4 linked regions of the Homo sapiens genome follow. The protein of the gene in region 2 interacts with the protein of the main gene of each other region in a pairwise test. Each region holds a gene or a part of one and is shown on either strand. Other genes may lie near its edges.

Region 1 (4,922 bases), on a different chromosome or scaffold from region 2:
TCTGTTTCAAAAAAAAGACCAGGTCTCGCTCTGTTGCCCAGACTGGTCTCGAACTCCTAGCCTCAGGCAATCCTCCCACCTTGGCCTCCCAAAGTGCTGGGATTGTAGGCGTGAGCCACCACTTCTCAGCCCCCTTAGAAATCCCTGAATGAATGGAATAAGCTGTCTGGGAGGGGTGAAGTGGTGAGCAGCTCCAGTGAGAGAAGTTCCAGAAAACAAATGCTGTCTCTACTAGGCCTGGAGTCTGCAGGGGCTGGCAGAGCAGAAAAAGGTCTTAAGGAGCTAGCAGGGTGCGAGAACCAGAGGAGGGACGGGACAGACCAGGAGAGAAAGGCACAAGACATGAGGAGAGGGCTGGAGAGAGATGGGTAAGGCAGATAGGACAAGACTTGGGGTGACCAGCTGGCCAAGAAGGATGAAGAGAGGGCCGGGGGAGTGTCTGCTGGGGCACATGAGTGGATGGTGGAGTTGTCGTGGAGGAGGGGACACTCAGAGAAACAGATTTTACAGGGAAGAGATTAGGCTCTGGGAGTGAGCAGGAAGGGCCTGTAGGCCATGGGTAGCGGGGTGGATGTTCAGGAGAAAGTTGCAAAACACAGTCCGAGGCTGGCGGCAGGGAGGGAGGCGTATTTAGGAAACCATGCATGTTTACAGGCAGGAGCAATGGCAGCTGGATGTCCTGGACAAGTAGGGAGGCAACCAGGCCCTTCCCTGGGTCAGGGAAGGGAGACAGAAACATTTCAGGATATTAGGATTGCAATAGTAACGGGGGTGCACGCAAAGGAAAGCATGTGCAAGCAGCTTGAGATGGAGACCGGCTGGAGAGCATCGGAGACCAAGGCGAGGCCCCGTCTGTGAGGAGCTACGGGGGAAGGGGAGAGCTGAGGATGGGGACACCCAGAGACGGCCTCCGCCCAGCGCGAGGCGGCACAGAGACCAGGCCGGGCTCCGCGTCTGTCACGGTAGCAGTGTGGCCCTTGACCCTGGGGCAGTGATCGTCCTCCACGCCTGCTCGCTGCGTAGCGTCTCTGCGGCCTGCGAGTGGGTCGTGGCCATGCTGCTGTTCGCGCTCTTCGGTCTCTTAGCCGTTGACTTCTCCGCCCTGGAGAGCTGCACCCTGTGTGTTCAGCCGTGGCCCAGCCTCAGCCCCCCGCCGGCCTCCCCCATCTCCCTGCCGGTCCAGCTGTAGCAGGCACCCTGACCCGGGCCTTGCCCTCACCAGTGAAGCAGGAAAGATGGGGCCAATCCCAGTGCCCCGCACCCAGCAAGATGAGCCACTGGAGATCTCTCCAACCAGCTGGGGCTGCCGCTGACTGACCTGGAGCCGGAGGACCTGTGTGCCGGCGCGGAGGGCCTCTGAACAGCTGGTGGCAGCCAGCATCCCCGTCCCCGCCTTCGGGCCCTGCCCCTGCAACTGGGCACCCAGGAATCGAGAGGCCAAGGCCAGCCAGCTGTCCCTGATCAAGGCTATTTATTATTATTATCTTTTTTTTTTTTTTTTTTTTTTTTTTTTTGCCGCCGGCGGAATCAGAGACACGGACGCAGGCAGGATCACGCGAAACCAGAATTCCTTCCGGAGAGCAAATCCGTACAGAAGGTCGTGGGGGGAGGACCAGGGGAGGAGGGGCCCGGGAAGAGGGGGTTGGGGACGACACAGGGACAGAGGGCCCTGTCCGGATCTGCTAAGCCACCCCAACCAGCTCCCGTCCCTCCCCCACCCCACCCCGCAGAGAGATTGATCAATAAATAAAATAATAAATTAATCAATAAATAAAATAGAAACAGCTCCCCCGCCCCCTGTTCCCCTAGAACCACCCCCAGTTGGGCACGGCCTGTGGAGCCCCATCCCTGCAGGGCAAGGCCGGTTTTTGTGTCCACCCCCCTCCCGACATGTTCCTTGGGCCTTATTTACAGATTCACAGTTGGGGGGCACGGAAGGGGGGTGGAGGGGGGTCCCCTCCCTCCCCGGCCCCGTGGGGTCAGGGCAGAGGGGTCCCGTTGGTGGCCAGGAGCTTCTTGTCCTTGGGGGGGCCTCGGCGGGGAGAGCTGCTCAGCTCTGGGTCTGGGCGGCCGGGTGGGGGCTGCAGGCTTCGGGGTGGGGCACCAGCAGGCCGGGTCTGGGCCCCGTTCTTCTCGTCTGCAAGGGAGGAAGAGGTTTTTCGTGGGTTCCGCAGCCCAGGGTTGGGGTTCCCATTACCAGGGGATGGGGGCAGAGTCTCCTCATCAGTCGGTCTCAGTAACCCCGAGGCTCTAGCTCCAATCCCTGATAAGGCCCAGTCCGTCCAGCACCTGGCCTTGAATTGGTTACTCGGAGGACACACCCCAAGTGGCAAGGCCTGACTCCCCTAGGACGGGGGCTGCACCCTATGCCCCCTGCAACCCTGGGGCCAGGTTAGTCCAAGGGGGCCTGGGCCGGGCCTGACTTTAGGAGACTCTCAGATTCTGGTTATGATACTGTTCGCTAGGAAACAGCCTGCCAGGACGGTGCTCAACGTTCACAGCAAGAGGGGCCCCCCGACTCTCTCCTACCCTGGTTGTTAGGGAGAAATGTTCCATGGAACTGGGCTCAAGGGAGCCTACTGGTGGAGTCGGGGGGGTCTCAGGCCCCTCATGCTGGGCCAGCCTGACTCAGGTCACTGTCTCCTGGGTCCTGAGGCCACCTCCTCTTGGGGACTGAGGTGGAAACACTGGTTGCTGGGTGGTCTCCAGCAATTTCCATGGGGCCTAGGATGTTACCTGAGGTCCCGTGGCGGAGACCTCGTTTTTCTTTTAAGAGAAACTGAGTGGGCCGGGCGCAGTGGCTCATGCCTGTAATCCCAGCATTTTGGGAGGCTGAGGCAGGCAGATCACTTGAGGTCAGGAGTTTGAGACCAGCCTGGCCAACATGGTGAAACCCCGTCTCTACTAAAAATACAAAAATTAGCCGGGTGTGGTGGCACGCACCTGTAATCCCAGCTACTCGACAGGCTGAGGCGGGAGAATCATTTGAAACCCGGGAGGTGGAAGTTGCAGTGAGCTGAGATCGCGCCACTGCACTCCAGCCTGAGCGACAGAGGGAGATTCTGTCTCAAAAAAACAAAAACAAAAACTGGGGGGCTTGTCATAGCAACCACGGTGACTCGGAGGCCTGCACCCCCCACCCCATTCTCCTTTATGAGATGGTGGCTGAGCCCCCCAGGGTGCCTGTTAGTCCTACATCTTCCAGGGTGTGCCCGTTTTGAGACCCCTGGTTGCTGAGGCCAGCTTTCCTCGGCAACGGGGTCCAGTGGACCTAATTTGCTTTCCGGTTGCCCCTAGCAACCATGAGAAAAGAGGGTTTCTGCACCTCAGCACGACTGCCATTTGGGACCCAGCTGTCGTGGGGGGCTGTTCTGTGAATTGTAGGGTGTTTTACAGCATCCCTGGCCTCCACCTACAAGAGGCCATTGGCATCCCCCTGTTTTCCCCAGTTGAGGGGAGGAAAAATGTCTCCAGACATTACTAAATGTCCCTAGGGGGTTGGGCTAGGCTGAATAACGGCCCCCTCCAAAGATGTCCACATGCAAATACCGAGAACTTGTGACTATGTTTCTTGATGCAGCAGAAGAGATCCTGTGCTGTGGGGAAGGTGAGGGACCACGAGTTGGGGGATTATCTTGGAGTATCTGTGCAGGTCCCACTGAGTCACCTTTTCCCAGCTAAGGTCAGTCAGAGGGATATATGGCGTCACTGGCTTTGAAGATGGAGGAACGGGCCTTAACCAGAGCGCCTAGGAACTGGAACACACAAGGAAACAGTCTCTGCCAGAGAGCCTCCAGGTGCAGCCCTCCAGGCACCCTGTTAGCCTGCAGAGACCATGTGGGACTTCTGACCTCCAGGACTGTACGAAAATCACTTGTGTTGTTTCAGCCACCAAGGCTGTGTCATTTGTTGACGGCGGCCATAGAAAACAAACACGGGGTGAAACCAGCTCCCCTAGTTGAGAACCACGGCTCCAGAGCAAAAGACCTGACCCTGGGACTCAGAGTTTCTGGTGACAAGGCCAAAGCTGCCCTGGCTCCTGGCCTCAACGCTGGGCCGTTTCCTTTCAACGGGGTCCAGGGGTCCAGGAAGGGGCATGGGTCCTGTGAGGCTGATGCTGCCTGACTCCCCTCAGAGCAGACGGCTGTCCACGTGCCCTGCAATGGGGCCCAGTACCCTGTTTCACTGTGTCCCCTGTGACCCCGTGTCTCAGGAATGAGGGCTGATTTCCAGGGCAGGCGCTCTCTTCCCTTGAGAATTCTGGCTACCTCTGGTTGCTTGGGCGAGTGCCCCTTATGCTCTCTACTGAACACTGCATCCTCCCAAATTCATGTGCTGAAACCCAATCCCAAGGTGATGGTATTAGGAGGTTATGTTAGGAGGTGATGAGGTCATGAGGGTGGGGCCTTCATGAATGGGATTAGTGTCCTTAGGAAAGAGGCCCCAGAGAGTTCCCTTGCCCCTTCTGCCATGTGAAGACACAGCACCAACGTGCTGTCTGTGACCCAGGAAGCAGCTCTCACCAGGCACCAACGCTGCTGGCAGCTTGATCTTGGACTTCCCAGCCTCCAGAATTGTCAGCAATAAATTTCTGTTATTTGTAAGTTGCCCAGTGTATGGTATTTTCTTATAGTAGCCTGAACGAACTAAGACACCTTTGCAACAAACCCTCTGCTCTCCTGATTGCTAGAGAATTTGAGTCTTTGATGACCAGGACTGGGAGCCCGGGAAGGCCGGATTCCCCAGAGCAAGATCTTGCACATTCCCATGAACTCAGCTTAGAATTCTGGTTGCTAGGGACCATTAGGCCCTAGCCCCAGGGTGAGGTGACTTGTGAGACCTGCAAAGATGGTGACCAATTTGTCCTGGGTTTAGACTCAAAGCCCTGCATCCCAGAAACACCCTTCAGTCCCAAGCAAACC
Region 2 (5,889 bases):
CAAGCAGCTGGGATTACAGGCATGCGTCACCACACTCGGCTAATTTTGTTTTTTGATAGAGATGGGGTTTCTCCATGTTGGTCAGGCTGATCTCAAACTCCCGACCTCAGGTAATCTGCCCGCCTTGGCCTCCCAAAGTGCTGGGATTAGAGGCAGGAGCCACCGTGCCCGGCCCAACTTTCTTTCAAAAAGTAGAGTATGAAAAGGGAGAAAGAAAAAGTAACTTAACAATGGAAAAACCTGACAAACATGACCTCAAGCCAGGTGATCAAGGTTAATATCAACACTGAGAAGTCATACTGATAGCATACACCCTTGATATGATGTCATGAGAATGTCACTTTACCTCTGTGGCCTTCCTCCCAAAAACCACATTCTTCAGTCTCACCATGAGAAAAACATCAGACAAATCCCGATTGAGAGAGTCTACAAAACACCTAAGCAGTACTCCTCAAAACTGTCAAGGTCATCAAAAACAAGGAAAGTCTGAGAAGCTGTCACAACCAAGAAGAGCCTAAGGAGACATGACTGCTAAATGTAATGTAGTATCTTGAATGGGATCCTAGAACTGAAAAAAGACATTAGGCAAAAACAGAACCTGAATAAAGTGTGTACTTTAGTTAATAATAATGTAGCAGAATTGATTCATCTATTTTGACAAATGCATCATACCAATGCGAAATGTTAATAATGGGGAAACTGGGTGTAGGGCATACAGAAAGTCTCTGTACTATCTTTGCAGTAATTCTGTAAATCAAAAACTATTAGTACATTTATTAAAGAAAAATCTACTAGGAAAGCTTCCAGAAGTATTCCATGCTCACAATAAACAAGGCAAATGCAATCAAGAAAACTCAAACATGAGATTAAATCAGTTAACTGGCTGCTCAACTATAATAATGCCCTGTGCCCAGAGCTTTACAGAAACTATCACACGAAATATTAGCTTATTAAGCCCACAGCTTCTTTACCAGGATAAAATGGCCAAAGACATTGGTCTCAAACACCTCCTGAAGTCCATCAGCAGTGATCTTATCACCCTGGGTCAGCAGGCCTTCAGCTGTGGAGAACATATGAATCACTTTTCTGAAACAGCAGAAGATAATTGCATGACTTTTTAAAGCTTCTTTAACTGGAAATACTGAAAACACTTTCCAACCCATCCCCCCGACCCATAAACTACACCTCCCTTGATTCTATAATGACAGGAATAAAAATACCTATTTCTCAGACTGGGTTATTGTATTAAATGAAATGCCAAAGACCCTCCTTCCCCCCACTAATTCACAGAAATACTTACATACTTATAGCTCACGCTACCAATAGGAACTTGAGTCTCTCAAAAACCTGCTGCTAAAATTCTCTTCACCTCTTTCCCAATCAGGTTACAGGTAAACTGTTCTAAAGGAATAATAAGCTATGCCAAAGGGAAAAAAAGTTTTCCTGTGCACAAAGTATGTTTAACTGTCAAAAAAAAGAGTTAAACAGATTGTTTTTTTAACTGGGAATACTTCAAACGTATTAATATAGTGTTCTGCTGGGAGGTCAATTTAGTAGGTCAAAATCAATGCGGGGAGAGAGAGACAGAGAGAGTGTGAGAGTGTGTGTGTGTGTCTGTCTTTTAATGGAAAAGAAGTAAAGCAAAAGCATTGGTATAGTAAGCAGCACATAGTAAGAATGCCTATTTATGAATAAGTGTATTGGGTCACAAAGTAAGATCTATTCCTATAAATAAGAATTCTCCTGGTTGTGTTTCAACATTTTTGAAAGCCACTACACTAATGAGTAACGAGAATCTCCCAGGAAACATTAGTTGTCTGCATTTCCCCAACCTACTGGTCAGAGCACCTGACATACAGCTGGGAAACAGTTCAAAGTAACTTTCCTGGAAATTGGAGACTCTCTGAGAACTCTGCCTAATTTCAAAATGTTCTTGCTAATAGGCATATCCAGGCAGACCAAAAAATGACCTTCTAAACCATTTAGAATGTCCTGGAGACTTAGAATACCATAAAAAACGGGACTTTCAGCACTCCCCACAAAAGAGGATTGCTTTTCTTTCATGATATGGTTGCGACATCTCCTTTTTCTGTCTTCAACCTTTTCAACAACCCCTTACCTTTCATCCCCCCAACTTAACATGCCATCAAAACTAGGCAGAAAAATGAACACATTCCTTCCAATCAGTTCATCCATAAAACGAAAATTACCTTGAAAAGAGGCCAAAGAAAAGTGCTTTGATATTTAGTTGTGGATTAGGCATGATCCCAGCATTTAGATATATACAGTCTAATCTCTGAAACCTGCAAGTAAACCACCAAACAAGATTGTGAGTTGCAAGTAAAAACATCAGGACAAGATTGTGTATTCTATCTCTAGAGTGACTAGAATCAAGGAGGCCTAAGAAAGACAAAAAATACTTTTTAAATTAATATATTAGCCACAGCAAGTTCAGAAGAATTTATAGCACATTAGAGTTACAGCATTTCTTTCTCAACAGTTTTTCTTTAGCTACAGTAAACATTTGAGAATTCTTTCTTTGGTAGTGGCTTCAAACAGAATCTGTGGAGTCATCGTGGGCTTTAAGTAAAACCTCTGATCAATAATTCCTTCCAGCTCTGTCCTCTCAATAAGGAATTGCAGCAACCCTCTATCTCTTAAACCCACTCTCCTCGTCTTACAAAGTGTCTTGCTTTAAAAAAAAAATCCACATCTCCTCTGGTTGACAAGTAAAATTTATATACTATTGATATTCACCTGACCTGATCTATTAATGCTGAAATCTGAATGCCAAAATATATAATAAAACAGAAGATCCATGTGGAAACCTTTCAGTGTTCATGGACAAGTCCTATGTATCCTAAAATGATGAAAGTTCGTAAGAATACACTGAGATTATAAAAGATAAATGGGGGTAAGGTAATCTTGTTGGGCTCCCCCCTGAATACTTGTCACGGAAGGGATATGAAATGCTGAGTTGAAAAAGCATTTTCAGTTTTAAACCTATGTAAGTCTTCATCTAAGACTCTTCATCTAAGACTTACATAGGTTTAAATGTACTCATTTTGAACTAGGTTCAAGGCAGGTAAAGCCTGCTCTCATGATACTCACAGACACCATAAATATTCAGAATATCTCCTAGAGTTCTATGTACCAAACTGTCTCTGAATAACCCAAGATATTAAGAGTCATAGCTTCTAAACTTAGGACCCTGAAATACATACATGGTCTTCAACACAGATCACATACAACCATTTCTTGATCATCCTATAAATAATTGACAAATGACTCAAATTATTAAATTGACCATTTAAAATGCTGATATTATTACCATCAGTTCATCATGTAAGTGCCACAAAGATAGTGTGAGTTCATCCATTGTTGCTTGTTCTATTACCTTATTTGCCAACTTTTATCTATGAATATTAACATATTTGGCTAGGAACGGAGAGGAAATGTTTAGTAAAGACATCAAATTAAGCTCTGGCTTCAGTAAAATGACATACCACTCATCAATAAAATAATTGATACATTGCTCTAATATGGATAAAACAGCATCACTATTTCTTACTAGTTTTCATCTGCACTATCTAATAGAAGAGAATGCTACAGATGGAAAGACCAGGTGTCAGGGATGGTGCTACTTGAGCCATTAGAAGGGATTCTCAAGCTCTCTTTAGCTCTAGTTTATTTCAGACTTAGAACTGAAGAGATCCATTTGAGCCACTGGGTGTAGTTTCTTGACATAAGTAAGAATCTATCTGGACACTTTCATATATTCCAAACTTGTGAATATCACTATAACCATTCATTTCCTAAACTTGAATTGACACCAACCATCTCAAAAAAAAGGCTGTTTTGCGGACTAAATACCTCAAAACTTCACTAAAATGCTGATGACAGGTACCTGGGACAACTCACTTATCACCTGAAGTGCTCCCTTCTGCCCCACAGCCTCACTGCCTTGAATCTGTGCTAAGTTGCTAAATATCTTACGAAATACTAAATTACTGAACTCGCGATAAAGTACCGAATATCTTGAACCTTTGAAGGCATTTGGGAATAGTCAGTACTATAAATGTTAAAACTTTGGGTCTCAAAAGTAAACTGCATCGGAATGGGATATTATTAACTGGGAAATGAAGGTTCTTTTCTTCCAAATAAGAAAATATAACAAAATCTAAACAAAGCAGGTAAGAAGCCAGCTGGCTAAGAAAGTTTGGGAAAAGAATGCCTGTAAACATGATTTAAAACTCATAACTTCTCTCAACTTCATGGTTTTTATCTCCATAAGGACATTCAGTATACAGTTTCACAGCCCTGGAGATGCTTAAGTTATGGAGGAGTAGGGGATATGGAATATATCAAAATTTATGTGAAAACAGAACCTAGAAAATCTCAGGTTTTTTGTTTTTTTTTCTTTAAGATGCGGTAGAAAACTCTAATAGCTCAGCAGTACTGGAGAGAGAAACCACATTTACAAAGGACTAAGGCCACACTGAGAAGAGCTGGAGTGAAGAAAACTAGCTTTCACTTTGTAACTTGTGCATTTGGAACAGGCAAATGCAAATGATTATCAATTCACATAAAATGTGAAGTATTTTTATTCAGCAAACATCTTCATCAAGAAAGCCTTCCTTGTTTCTACCCATTTCATTCTACTGTCCAAGGAAACAAGGTAGTTCTTTGTCTCTTAAGTGCCTCAATATTTGAAAATTAATTATTCCAGATAGCCCTAGGGCAGCATAGACTAGTGCAGGGTTCTTGGACTTTTTTCATCATAAATTCCTCTTACAATTTAAAAACAAATAAATAAATAAAAAGCCCTCTCTGCTCAGAAAAATGCATTGTGCACCTACATGCAATTTTGTGTTCACTTTCAGGGGAGTTATACATCTGAGGACTCTATTCCTTCATATACCAACTATTGATCAAATGTCTATTACATGCCAATTACTGTGAAGGTGTGAACAAATCTTTACTGGCCTAGGGAAAAAAAATACCCCTTAGGAAGCAGGGAGAAGCCCTGGGGTCTTGGACCCACCCAACTAATATAAGATTGGATGACCTTCCCAGGCATATTACCCTTATTTCTGTGTCTCAGTTTCTTCACTTGTTAAATGTCACTCACTACTTGCCTTATCTACTTAATGAATTCATTATGTGAAGAAAGATGTAAAAAATGAATTCAAATGTCAAAGGAGTTACCTTAACGTAAGGCAGTGCAACTGATCACACATCAGGATGTACTTACAAATTAGTCTCCATGAAATAATTATGATCATGATTGAGATTGAAAATGTGGTACTGGCCAAGTGCAATGGTTCACACCTGTAATCCCAGCACCAACTGATCGATCACATATCAGGATGTACTCATAACTTAGTCTCCATGAAATAATTATGATCATGACTGAGACTGAAAATGTGGTACTGGCTGGGCGCAATGGCTCACGCCTGTAATCCCAGTACCAACTGATCACACATCAGGATGTACTCATAAATTAGTCTCCATGAAATAATTATGATCATGATTGAGACTGAAAATGTGGTACTGGCCAGGCGCAATGGCTCACGCCTGTAATCCCAGCACTTTGGGAGGCCGAGGCGGGTGGATCACGAGGTCAGGGGTTCGAAACCAGCCTGACCAACATGGTAAAACCCCGTCTCTACTAAAAATACAAAAATTAACCAGGCATGGTGGCGCATGTCTGTAATCCCAGCTACTCAGGAGGTGGAGGCAGGAGAATCACTTGGAACCCAGGAGGTGGAGGTTGAAGTGAGCCGAGATCACGCCATTGCACTCCAGCCTGGGCAACAGAGCAAGACTCCATCTCTTTAAAAAAAAAAAAAAAAAGAAAGAAAACGTGGTACTGAGACACAATGGGTC
Region 3 (5,889 bases), on a different chromosome or scaffold from region 2:
GTTGGACTGCAGAGAATCACTGTCAGTGGAACATAAAGATGAAGGAATGTTTTATTTTGCTTAGTAATGTTCAGGTCTGAGGTTAGAGTTTGTGGTTGTGGTCATTGGTTTTTTCTTTCATGTTTTAGTGATTTTCTTTGCACAATTAGAAGTATTTTGAATTTGCAGAGAGATGAACAAAAAAGTCTGCTGTCACGAATTTGTGCGCTTGTGATGAAAAGGTTTCATTTTTTAAGACAGGGTCTTGCTCTGTTGCTCAGGCTGGAGTGCAGTGGCACTGTCATGGCTCACTGCAGCCTCAGCCGACTGGACTCAGGTGATCCTCCCACCTAAGCCTCCCAAATAGCTGGGATTACAGGAATGCACCACCACGCCCAGCTAATTTGTGTATTTTTAGTAGAAATGGGGTCTCTCCTTGTTGTCCAGGCTGTTGTTGAACTCCTGTCCTCAAGTGATCCGCCCACCTCGGCCTCCCAGAATGCTGAAATTACAGGTGTGAGCCACTGCGCCTGGCCAGTGATGTGTGTAAATTTAAAAGACTGTATTGGTGAAGATGTGGAACAAGTGAGACTTCCCTACGCTGCTAGTGGGAATACAAAATGGTACAACCCATTTTGGAATTTGTCATTCCACTCCTAGGTATTTACCCAAGAGAAATGAAGTATATGTCCATACAAAGACTTGTAGATAGCAGTTTTATTTGTAATAGCCTCAAACTGGAACAACCTTAGTGTCCATCAGTAGGGGAATGGATGAAGAAACGGGTATATCCATATACTGGAATACAGCTCAGCAATCAAGAGGAATAAACTGTTGACACATGCAGCAACATGGATGGTTCTCAGTATAATTATGCTGAGTGAAGTAAATTGGATAAAAAGATTTTTTGAACAAGAAAAAGGCCAGGAAGTTGCTTCTAATTACATATGCAGTACTCAGATTTCAAGAACTGGTATTGAAATTGAGCCATCAGAGCAGTGTTCAGGTCGAATAATGAATTGTCTTGGGTCTTAAAGCTCCAGCAAATCAAATTGTCATCATCAAAATAGCCTCTTTTTTTTGGTTTTGTTTTCTGTTTTTTGTTTTGCCAGCTTCAAGAGATGGTTCCGTTGCTTTGGGGTGAACTTGGTACCAGTGCCGTGTTACTTATCCAGTTCTAACTCAAGAAAGTTCTGGAGGGCATAATGATCTTAGATAAGACCAAGGCCCCGAACCTGACCATGTTCTGTCTTCTCTGTGAGTTGAATCATCCTTTGGCCAGTTGGATCCTGGCTTTGTCTTGGGTAATTTATTTTATCCAGGATTGATGCCAGCTATGTGTGTTCTGGGTTTTTAGCACTTCAGGTTCATGTCAACTGAGTCGCTCTGAGAGCTGCCCTGTTTGGAAACATGCAGTTTCCCCACTAAGCAACAGCTTCCTATTCAAGCAAATTTCTTACACTCTACCAGTCCCGATACACTCGACGTTAAATTCAGCGTAGCACACATTTCCTCATGCCTGTGTGTGCGTGTTTGTTTACATTACAGTTGGGGCATTTGGTGGGCCTATGTATGTTCTGACAGTAAACTAGGAGAAATGGATGCTTTTTTCTGAATTGTAATCCACCCTAAAGCAAGTGAGGAGTCAGCCTGGGAAGCAAGAAGTGCACTCGACTGGACATCAGATGGGCGTGTTAGTCCTGCCTCTGTTACCAGCCATTCCGTAACTTGTCCCCATCATCAAACCCTTCCGAGGCTCGGTTATTTGAGCCATAAAATGAAGACATTGGGCTAGAATTCTGAAAGATTAACTACTAAAGTTGTGGTTTGTCATCATTTTATTATTATTGCCTCCAGCTTTATGGTGATGATTAGTAGTAGAAGCTTCTATTTATAGAGGATTTTGTGCCAAGCACTACACTGATAGCTTGATAGGCATCATGTTCAGTCTTGACAACAATACCACAGGATATGTATTATTCCCAATTTACAGATGAGAAAACTGAAGCATGGAATGTGACTTTTTTGAGGTCAGACAGCCAGAAGGTAGGGGAGGCTGGTTTTGAATGTAGCTTGTCTGATTCCCTGTATGTTTGGCCATCATGCTTTACTGCTTCCCTGACATTCTGCAATTTTAAATAAAGACGTAAGGACAAAAAACTTGTTTCAGGAAGGATTTTTAAAAGACATCCAGTCTAATCACCATAATGTATCTGCCACTCTGCAGAATGCAGTTGTAGGTGAAGGTCTCCCTATGCAGCCTATTCTTTTTGAACAACTTAATCTTAGATTCTTTTAAAAATAGCTTTATTGAGATACAATTCACCTAATGAAAGTATGTTCACAGATGTGTATAGTCATCAACAGAGTCAGTTTTAGAACATTTTTGTCACCTCAGAAAGAAACGTTTTAGCTATCACTCTTGTATCTCCCCACTCTCGCCAGCTCTAAAGTAACCAACAATCTACTTTCTGTCTGTGTAGATTTGCCTATTTTGTATAAGTGGAATCAATATGTGGTCTTTTCAATGGGTTTCATTCACTTAGTATGATGTTTTGAAGATTCATCCATGTTATAGCGTGTATCATTTCTTCATTTTTATGGCCAAAGGTTCCATTGTATGGATACACCACATTTTGTTTATCCAGTCATCAGTTGATGGACATTTTGGTTGTTTCCGTCTTTTGGCTGTTCTGAATAATGCCATTGTAAGCATTCATGTGCAATTTTTTTGGTGTAGACAGTTTGTCTTTCTCTTGGGTATGTACTTAGGAGTAGAATTGCGAGGTACATGGTAACTTTGTTTAACCATTCTCCGAGCTGCACTGTCTTACATTCCCACCACCAAAGTGTGAGGGTTGGATTCTTAGTATTGAGCTAGAATTTGCACCCCATACCTGCCAACCATAGCACCAGTTCCCTTGCTTCATGTGTCCCAAGCAAATCCGCTTTTTCTAGGTGACAGCCAGCCCGGTCTGACCTGAGTGCTCTCCAGTACTGAAGGGCTTCCACCAGCTTTCATGCCCTGGGATGTCGTTCTAGAGCCTCACCACCTCTCTTATGAATGTGATCCCCCTCCTTTTTTTAGAGAACTAGATGCCTTTTACGTATGGATAATTTGTGCTCAGAGATGGTTGTCTTCTCAGTTTCAGTTGTCCTTTCTCAGTTAACTGGTAAGAACCCTTAACCCAGTAGTCTCAACTGGCTCCACATCAGAATCGCTCGAGTGTGTTAAGAACAAATCCAGATTGTACCTGCAGAGATTCTAATTTATTTCATCTGGGCTGAGGCCCAGAGATGCAAATAAGCATCCTGGGTGGAGAACCAGTGCAGCCTTTAGTGGCCAGGGGATGGTTCTGGCTGGGTCTCTGAGGGCCCACGTGGCTCATGCCCCTGCCATCTGTGCATGGATACCAACTGTCCTGATTCAGAATTACTGTGAGAGTCTCAGTTTTTACTAATGCATTTACACAGAGTGCCATTTTGAAGCCTTAAGCATTTATGTTCCTGTTTTCTGGAGAGTCTCATTTGCCCCCAGTATGCTCTGCAGACACTGGCTGTGGCCATGTTTGCCTCCCTGTCAGGCCATGTGAACTTTCTGAATGAGAAAGCATGCTCCAGCCATTTCAGAGGCATATAAACACCTTTAGGCAAAAGTGGTAGTTGAAAACCTCATTAGTATAATGTCATTACTTCTTGGGAAATACATTCAAATTCCCCTTCTCCTTCCTAGTGACAGGGGCTTAGATGAATAGTATTCCATTATATCCTCTATTGGGAGACGTTGATGTTTGTTTTGATATTACAGACAATGCCGCAGTCAGTATCCCAGCACATATTATCACTTTGCTCATGCTTTAAAATACAGGGTTTATACACTTCTGCACTACTGACATTTGGGGCTGGACAGTTCCTCATTGTGTGGGAGCTGTCCTGTGCATTGTAAGATGTGCAGCATCATCTCTGCCCTGCGCACTGCACTAGATGCCAGTAGTAGCACTCCCATCCCAAGTCGTGACAGCCAAAAATCCCTGTAGATATTGCCAGATGCTCCCCAAGGGGGTAAAAAAATCACCCTTGGTTGGGAACCACTGGTCCGATTTATCCTTAGGATACATTTCTAGAAGTGGAATTGCTGGATCTAAGGTTACATACATTTAAAATTTTGATGACAGTCGCTAAATTGTTCTTTGTAGAGGTTGAACCCTTTTTACACTCCAACCAGCAGTATTTGAGGATGTTTTTCCATTCTCACCAGTGCAGTGGTTTATCAGAATTTCTTTGCCATCTCACTGTAGTTTCAATTCGAATTTCTCCATTTTACGACTAACCTTTTTATTGAACACTTCCTGCTTGCTAGGCAAGTTGTGTTTTTTGGCCTGTGGATTTTGTGTCATACGTTATAATGCTTTCCTTTCTAAGCCTTTTTGAAGTTTGGTACCTAGGACTGAAGACTGAGTTTCTTCTGATTCTAATGAAATGATAATATATACCATTCATTGAGATCTAACATGTGACAGGCATTGTGCTTGGTGTGCTCTAAAAATACGTGCATTCTTTTGTGATCTAAGCATGTATTAATAAAGTGGCCTTTCTTTTACCTTTTGAGTTGGCACAGGGCCTCTGTCTGCACATATTCTAGCAGTTATGGTCCCTGAGTTGGGATGTGTCACAGAGAGCCGACTGAAAAGTATTTGATTCTGCATTTAGGAGTGATAATAGTCCCAGTCCAATACCTTGTGATTGGGAGAGAATTGGTATAGATGCCTTGATTTAAATTAAGTTCTGTTCTGTTCTGTTCTTTTTTCTTTTCCTTTTCCTTTTCCCTTTCCTTTTCTCTCTTCTCTCTTTTCTCTTCTTTTCTTTTCCTTTTCCTTTCCTTCTGTTTTGTTTTCTTTTCCAAGAGTGTATTTTCCTTGTCAACAGTCATCATAGTTTGAAATTACAACTTTTTGTGTGCTTGTTTCCGGATGGGCATATCTTTTCACCGCTGAACAACAGCTAACACCTGATGTACTGTCTGGCACACACTGTGTGCCCAGTGAGTATTTGTTGAATGAATGAACTAGTCACTCCAAGAACTGAGGCCATTAGGGAGCCTAAAGGCCCAGATTTGCCATTCCATGGGTTGAAGAGTTAGGTTAGCTTAGTGATGGGCTCTGTTGCCTTCCTGGAATGGAGGCAGCTTCCTTCCTAAAAGACTCAGAACTAGCTGATTCTCTGGAATGTTTGGCCTGTGGGGGAACGTTGGCCCTGATGATTCTGGGTGAGTTTGGTTGGAACCCATCTGTGGACGTTGAGGGAATAAGTGAATATTCCTCTGAATGAATGGCTTCCCCAGCTCACATTCTTAAGGGGTCATGCTTATATTTACTTGAGGCAAAGTGATAGCCTCTCGTAAAAGAACGGTTATCTAGAAATTGTGGTTTGATTGAGTTCTGATGTGAACAGTTTTGATATTTCTAGACATCAAAGTCTGTATTAAGGGGACCTTAAGCCACCAGTTACCTCTGGCTTTAATGATTTTTCAGTTTCCAAACACTACCGATTTGATAAACTCAGTTGGCTTGCTCTTTCCTCTACTTCTAAGAATTTGTGTGAGTGTTGTTTAGTGTTGGCCAAATAACTTGTTAGGCCAGTTTGGTGTTCTCTGTCCTGGAGGCTGGCATTCAGCAAAAGGAACTCGGGGTGGGGTGTGGCGGGATGGGATGGGGTGGGATGGGATGGGACTGGGAGAGCCAGCAGGGGGCCTCTGAGCGGAGGAAAGACTAGCAAGGTCATGAGTGCAGACTCTTCCTATAAGGGGCAGATAGTGAGTATTTTAGGGTCTGTATCTGTAAGGGGCAGATAGTGAGTATTTTAGGGTTTTTCAAATCTTCTTTGTTTTTTGCATCTGTTTAAAAGAGTCTA
Region 4 (6,329 bases), on a different chromosome or scaffold from region 2:
CTCTAAGAGCTTTTATCTATATTTTAATTTCATAATTCTGGATTATCTCTTCATATAGCAAAAATTTTATATTATTTTCTGTAGAGAGAATAGAAAGATATTTCAGTCTTATTTCAAGCATGGTTGATTAAAATTTTTGTTTGTTCTTATTAATACTGGGATTCATAAAACTTCACACACATTTGAAGTACTGCTATAGGTTTGTGTCTTAATACACAGGATTCTTTAATTTTGTACTATTTTCATCAAAAAAATTTTGTAACATATGATGTGGTTTTAATCGTACGTAAGACATTATCAGATACATTCCTGAGAGAACCTGTCTTAACTAGGTTTTCTGGTCAAATTCTAAAACCAAATTCTCTGCCTGCAGCTTTACACACTGGATGATTGAAATTATTTTCCCTCGATTAGCTCTGTCTCTGTGCATTTCACCATCTGTTTCTCTTCAATAACCTACAAATTTCTGAACCTGGGAGCCATTAGGAAGCACACTTTCACTTTTCAATATGACTTCTGGCCCTGCATATTTGTTTTGGCATAGTGGATGCTACCCTGAATGGCTAGCAATAAATTATCAATATACAGAAATGACTGATACCCACATAAATATGACCCACTAAAGCCAAACTAAAATTATTCTCAACTCAACTTTCCCCATTTGGGTCTCAAAAATGCCCACAGCCCCTCCAATACCACCTGATACAGGAAATATGATGCCGTACAGTCAGAGTAAAATGATAATGGGGTTGACTGATTGTGGTTAAATATCTTTTGCAAATTTTATATAAAACATATGATTGTGTGAACACATTTCTTGTGCCCTTCTGGGATCTTGGAAGTAAATCAAGCAATGAATGGTCTTACAGCTTAAGCATCATTATTTTTACAATATTGCCACCTCTGCCTAAGTCTGTCTCACTCCAACATTTTTGCTTCTCTCCACTGTGCTATTCCACCTTAGATAATTGTAAAACATTAGGACAAGGGCAATGAGAGAAACCTAATTAGACAGGAAGGACACACTAAAGAAAGACACATGAAACAGCCTGGAAAGAAGGCTTCGGAGGGAAGAACTCACCTATCGCATGCTGGCCTGTCCTGGCATTGCACTGTTTTATTTTATGTATTTTGTTACCACTTTCAGAAAATTAACAGCACAGCTCTGCCCAACTAGCACATCTAATGCCATGTGCCACCCACCCGCCCTACACTGACCAGTGGTGCCATAAAATACCTGTTTTTTTCCTTTTCTTTTGAAAAAAAAAAAAGATTAGAACAAATAGAAAGATTAGAACAAATGTTGGCATGATAGAAACAAGGAATAAAATAGGCAGAAACATCCCAAGGGAAGATCTACATGCTCTAAATGAGTTTGTGTCTCTTGGAGAGGAATAAAATCCAGAGCACGGAGAAAGTTCAGATAAGATGGATGAACCTCAAAATAACTCGAGGTGCAGTGAAGACTCAGGCAGAACAACTGTATCCTGGCACATGCTATCCCAAATTTCAAAAATAGAATGGTGGATGTAGGTGAGCTATAGATCATGAGCTTGATGCAAATGTAGGTAATATTCTGAGATACAGTATTCAGTAGATAGTGTTAATCACGTAGGGAATGGTCAATAAAATGACAAAAGGATTCTTGATATTGAACTGGATATAAAACATGTAAAAAGCAAGTTGACTCCAATCAGGCAATAAAGAGATTGAATTCAGTCGAGTAGTGAATAATATCCTATAGAGGGAATTTCAACTATCAAATTACACAGTTATAAGTTATAAAAGAAGCTGGGCATGGTGGCTCATGCCTTTAATCCCAGTACTTTGGAAGGTCCAAGCTGGTGGATCGCTTGAGGTTAGGAGTTCAGGACCAGCCTGGCCAACATGGCGAAACCCCATCTCTACTAAAAATACAAAAATTGGCCGGGTGTGGTAGCGCATACTTGTAATCCCAGCTACTCGGGAGGCTGAGACACGAGAATTGCTTGAACCGGGAGGCAGAGGTTGCAGTGAGCAGAGATCATGCCACTACACTCCAGCCTGGGTGACAGAGTGAGATTCTGTCTCAAAAAAACAAAAAAGTTATAAAAGAGGTAACTTTAAAAATTGGGTAAGGGGGCCGGGCACGGTGCCTCACACCTATAATCCCAGCACTTTGGGAGGCCGAGGTAGGCGGATCATCAGAGGTCAAGAGATTGAGACAATCCTGGCCAACATGGTGAAACCCTGTCTCTACTAAAAATACAAAAATTAGACGGGCGTGGTGGCACATGCCTGTAGTCCCAGGTACTCCGGAGACTGAGGCAAGAGAATTGCTTGAACCCAGGAGGCAGAGGTTACAGTGAGCTGAGATCACACCACTGCACTCCAGCCTGGTGACAGAGAAATTGTCTCAAAAATAAATAAATAAATAAATAAATAAATAAATAAATAAATAAATAAATAAAACTAGGTAAGGGTACACATGATATACTAGACTGCATGAAACAGTGTGAATTTGGAAAGCTCTGTTACCTCAAGGAGATGCCCAGCAGATTGACTTTCGGGTCGTGTAGAGGCACCCTGGGCATGTGTGGTACCTAATTAGGTCCCTGACCCTCTCTCAAATTCTTTAACTGACACTTCAACCCTGGCCTTGATTCTCTGATACAGTATCCTCAGCCCAATCAGATCATACATCTATCTATTCTCTTTATTTGCATAAGTGGATTTACAATACTGGGAGAAGAGAGAAATAACTATAAGAATGTTGAAGTTAGTCAAATCCACAATATTAACACATTTGTATTAACTTTAGAAATTTAATTATTTAATCCTTGAGATAACCTATGAAAGATTGTTTGTTAAGTTACTTGAAGCATTTAATATAACCTGATATATTAGAAAATCAGATATATGAACCATATAATTTCAATTTTAAAGTACAAGAGCATTTTCTTCAGTCTATACACAGTGTTTGAATGTTTAAGAGAACATAACTTACTACTGCATAAATTTGGTTTATTACTTTTACTGGAATTGCTTTAATTATTAGAGCCCCCTCCCTCCTTTTATAAACTTGCAAGATGTATAAAAGATACTAATGTGTCAGGCATTTGAAATGCTTGAGAGATTCAGGTAGACTAAATTTGTAATTGATATAATATATAATATTTAAAGGAACTTAATTAACCAAGTCTATCAATTGCATTATTTGTTTAGGGGAATTAACGTCAAATTGAACATTAGTCATGGAATAATTTTAAATGGTAATTTATATTGGCTGGGCACAGTGGCTCACGCCTCTAGTCCCAGCACTTTGGGAGGCTGAGGAGGGCAGATCACCTGAGGTCAGTAGTTCGAGACCAGCCTTGCAAACATGGTGAAATCCCCTCTACTAAAAATACAGTAATTAGCCAGGTGTGGTGGCATGTGCCTGTAATCCCAGCTACTCGGGAGGCTGAGGCAGGAGAATCACTTGAACCTGGGAGGCAGAGGTTGCAGTTAGCAGAGATGGTGCCACTGCACTCCAGCCTAGGCTGCCAAGTGAGACTCTGTCTCAAAAAAAAAAAAGGTAATTTATATTATCCTTTTCAGATTTACAGATTTACAGAGATCTGCTTGATAAATATAAAAGGTTTAGAAAAACTATAAAGGTTTTTTAAGCTTTGCAGCTTTCATTCATTGAATAGTAATTAAGATGTAGGTAGGACTGTATTTTACAAGATTTAAAGATTCTTTTGGCAGTCGGATAAAACACTTCAATGCTCAGCTAGATGAAAGGCAGAAGTCTTTGTTACTTACAGCTCTGAATGAGAGAAGGCTGCCACAGAGGACCACGCAGGGGGTTGCACCTGAGGACTGGGTACCACAGGCTGGAGGGGGAATGGGCAGCTTATGTACAGCAAAAAGGGTGGGGTTAGCTAGGTTGAATAATTTTGAATAATTTGCATAATTTTGGCGGGCTTTGGGGCATGGGCGCTGTCCTTAATTGTCTGATGTCTGGCCCTGTGGTGATTAGAGTGGGTACATAGTGGCCCCAGAGTGTGAGAACCTGATAAGGGAAGTGGTTGGGGTGTGGATTTAATCAGCTGCTCAAGAGAGGAAACTGACCAGCCTCTAGCCAAGGCCTCCATACTAGGTCAAGACAGCACAATAATCAATAAAAATACCATATATGAAATATATTTAGTCACTGATTCCTTTATATCTTGATGTCGATTTTGAACTCAATTATTTGGGGTGTTTGAGTGGCCTGAATAGTAGAGGAGACTTCTACAGAATAGGGCCTAAGTTGCACTAAACAGCATAGAAAACATTTTATTATGACAATAACAAGGAAGAAACCAAGTAGAAATGTGACAAGTCCCTGAAGGCTGACTCGTAACCAGGCTCCCATTTGTTTGGCGTTGGCCAGGAGAATACATCAGTCATGGCAAGGGCCTTTAGTCATATTTTGACTGGATTTCAGAGTGTGTTAAATATGTAAGGCATGTTTTTTTAGGGTGATGGTTTTCTGATCCAGGCTTTCTGTTAGAATGACCTCTTGATTGGTGGTGTTAACCCACCTACAACAAGAAGCTCTAATAATGTTACAAACACCTCTTTGACTAGTTAATATATAATCAAGGACAAATTTACTGTCAAAAAACATTTTTGCCAAAGCTCCCTGGTTTAGCAGGACTAATATTTGCTGTAACTTAGAAATATGATATACTAGAGTTTTGGACATTTGTAGGGTAGCATCAATTATTTTTGACTGTTGGGCTAAAGCAATGGTCCTTGTGGCCATCGCAGCAAGTCCCAGAGCAGTGGTGAGTCCCAGTATTATAGGTACAAATGTGGCACATCAATGACATTTGGCTGGGTAGGGAAAGAATAATTAACATTTATATAAATAGGAATGCCAAGAGAGGCCAGAATGCATCTCGTGGCTTCCAGTTTCAGAGTAATGGAAGGGCAAAGGAGAGGGGATAAACACCCTTGTTGGTTGGGACACAATATAGTTTTGTGGCATTACCATTAGACTGGAAAATTGTACCTTGATTTAGGTAAAGGGAAATTACTAAAGAATGGGACTGGAGGAAGACAGTGGCTTTTGTTGGGCATATGGTGAGAATATGCAGTTGTTCATTGGGTAGCCCATCTGTGGTATGTATTGAGGAAATACGAGTGCAGTTGCCACTTGCCATGAGGGGGCACCCCAATACAGAAGAAAAGGCCGTTTGGAAGTGGTTTTCATTTCTCAGTATTTTTCATCTCTGGGGCAATTATCAGTTGGGTAAATGTGTGATGTGGGATATGTGGAAGCAGGGTGATGAGTTATGGATAGTCAGTGCAGAAGAGCCTACTTCAGTCAAATGTGTTTGTATTTTGGATGTCTGTATAAATATCAGAGAAGCTGGGGCAGTGGGTTTGAATTTTACTTACGTAGTCTTTTAGAGGGCAAGAGGAGAAGATGCTGTTAGGACGGAAAAGATAGGGGTGGGAGTAGGGATACTGACAATGAGAAAGGGAAGGCGAGGAGGATGGAAGGGAATAAATGGTTTGACAGTCGGAGACCAGCAGATGCTCCTTTTACTCCTAGGAGAGCACACAGGGTGGAATACTTCAGTCAGGTTACCCTTTAGGCAGGAGAAGTGGGTGGGATTAGCAGGAACCTGAATCTTAGAAGCATTAGGGAGGTATTGGACTTGGTCTCATAAGGGCTAAGCCAGGTATAGAGTGGAATTACAATCACAGAGAGCAGAACTTCGAGTTTTATAGGTGTCTGTAAAGTCTGGAAAGTTACTCCAGTGTTGTGGGTCTTGCTTTTTTAAAACAGAAGTCAGCAGTGTAACCAGCTACTGGAAAACCAAGAGCCTCTGGTCTCCTATGAATGGCAAGACATTCCATGTGCTAGTGTAGTTGGCACTGCCCATAGTTGGTTGGGAGGCAGGGGGCATGTCATCTTTAATGGCATGGTCTTGAGCTAGGGCAGTGTCGGACTAGGGTATCCTTCCCACATGGATACCCACTAGGGTTGATGTGGGCTGTATTTTTGTGACTCTGTGGTGTTATAATGGGGCTGAGTCATTTGTAGAATTTGAATACAATGTTGGGTCCTGGGAGCTTGATTCACAAATGTCTTTTAAGTCAAAGGCTTTGTGGGTGCACAGCTAGCAAAGATGCTGGCATCCAGAATACTCCTATAATTGGACCAAAGTGCCAGAATCTGAATGGTACAATCAAAGTCTCAATTAAAGGCAGCTAAATGTCCCTACAAAGGACAGGATCTTGTTCCTTTTTATGGTGGCGTAGTATTCCATGGTGTATATGTACCACATTTTCTTTATCCAGTCTATCAT

Evidence for each region.
Region 1: the proteins of HSD17B7 (region 2) and BRSK1 interact in a two-hybrid assay, tested with the Homo sapiens proteins (one large-scale study listed by BioGRID and IntAct).
Region 3: the proteins of HSD17B7 (region 2) and GPAT4 interact in a two-hybrid assay, tested with the Homo sapiens proteins (one large-scale study listed by BioGRID and IntAct).
Region 4: the proteins of HSD17B7 (region 2) and CA1 interact in a two-hybrid assay, tested with the Homo sapiens proteins (one large-scale study listed by BioGRID and IntAct).

What each region holds. Positions count from the first base shown.
Region 1 is NC_000019.10:55,309,126-55,314,047, reverse strand, and holds the end of BRSK1 (serine/threonine-protein kinase BRSK1), read right to left. Parts: intron 4,605-4,922; exon of another isoform or gene 3,824-4,604; coding exon of another isoform or gene 3,753-3,823; intron 2,138-3,752; coding exon 1,980-2,137; 3' UTR 1,486-1,979; downstream 1-1,485. Other genes in the region: modulator of macroautophagy TMEM150B, read left to right, coding at 993-1,189. UniProt on the Homo sapiens protein: Serine/threonine-protein kinase that plays a key role in polarization of neurons and centrosome duplication. Phosphorylates CDC25B, CDC25C, MAPT/TAU, RIMS1, TUBG1, TUBG2 and WEE1.
Region 2 is NC_000001.11:162,792,999-162,798,887, reverse strand, and holds part of HSD17B7 (3-keto-steroid reductase/17-beta-hydroxysteroid dehydrogenase 7), read right to left. Parts: intron 2,304-5,889; coding exon 2,211-2,303; intron 1,087-2,210; coding exon 972-1,086; coding exon of another isoform or gene 951-971; exon of another isoform or gene 746-950; intron 1-745. UniProt on the Homo sapiens protein: Bifunctional enzyme involved in steroid-hormone metabolism and cholesterol biosynthesis. Catalyzes the NADP(H)-dependent reduction of estrogens and androgens and regulates the biological potency of these steroids.
Region 3 is NC_000008.11:41,583,682-41,589,570, forward strand, and holds part of GPAT4 (glycerol-3-phosphate acyltransferase 4 isoform 1 precursor), read left to right. Parts: intron 1-1,096; exon of another isoform or gene 1,097-1,236; intron 1,237-5,889. UniProt on the Homo sapiens protein: Converts glycerol-3-phosphate to 1-acyl-sn-glycerol-3-phosphate (lysophosphatidic acid or LPA) by incorporating an acyl moiety at the sn-1 position of the glycerol backbone. Active against both saturated and unsaturated long-chain fatty acyl-CoAs.
Region 4 is NC_000008.11:85,374,260-85,380,588, forward strand, and holds the start of CA1 (carbonic anhydrase 1), read right to left. Parts: upstream 3,855-6,329; 5' UTR 3,787-3,854; intron 1-3,786. UniProt on the Homo sapiens protein: Catalyzes the reversible hydration of carbon dioxide. Can hydrate cyanamide to urea.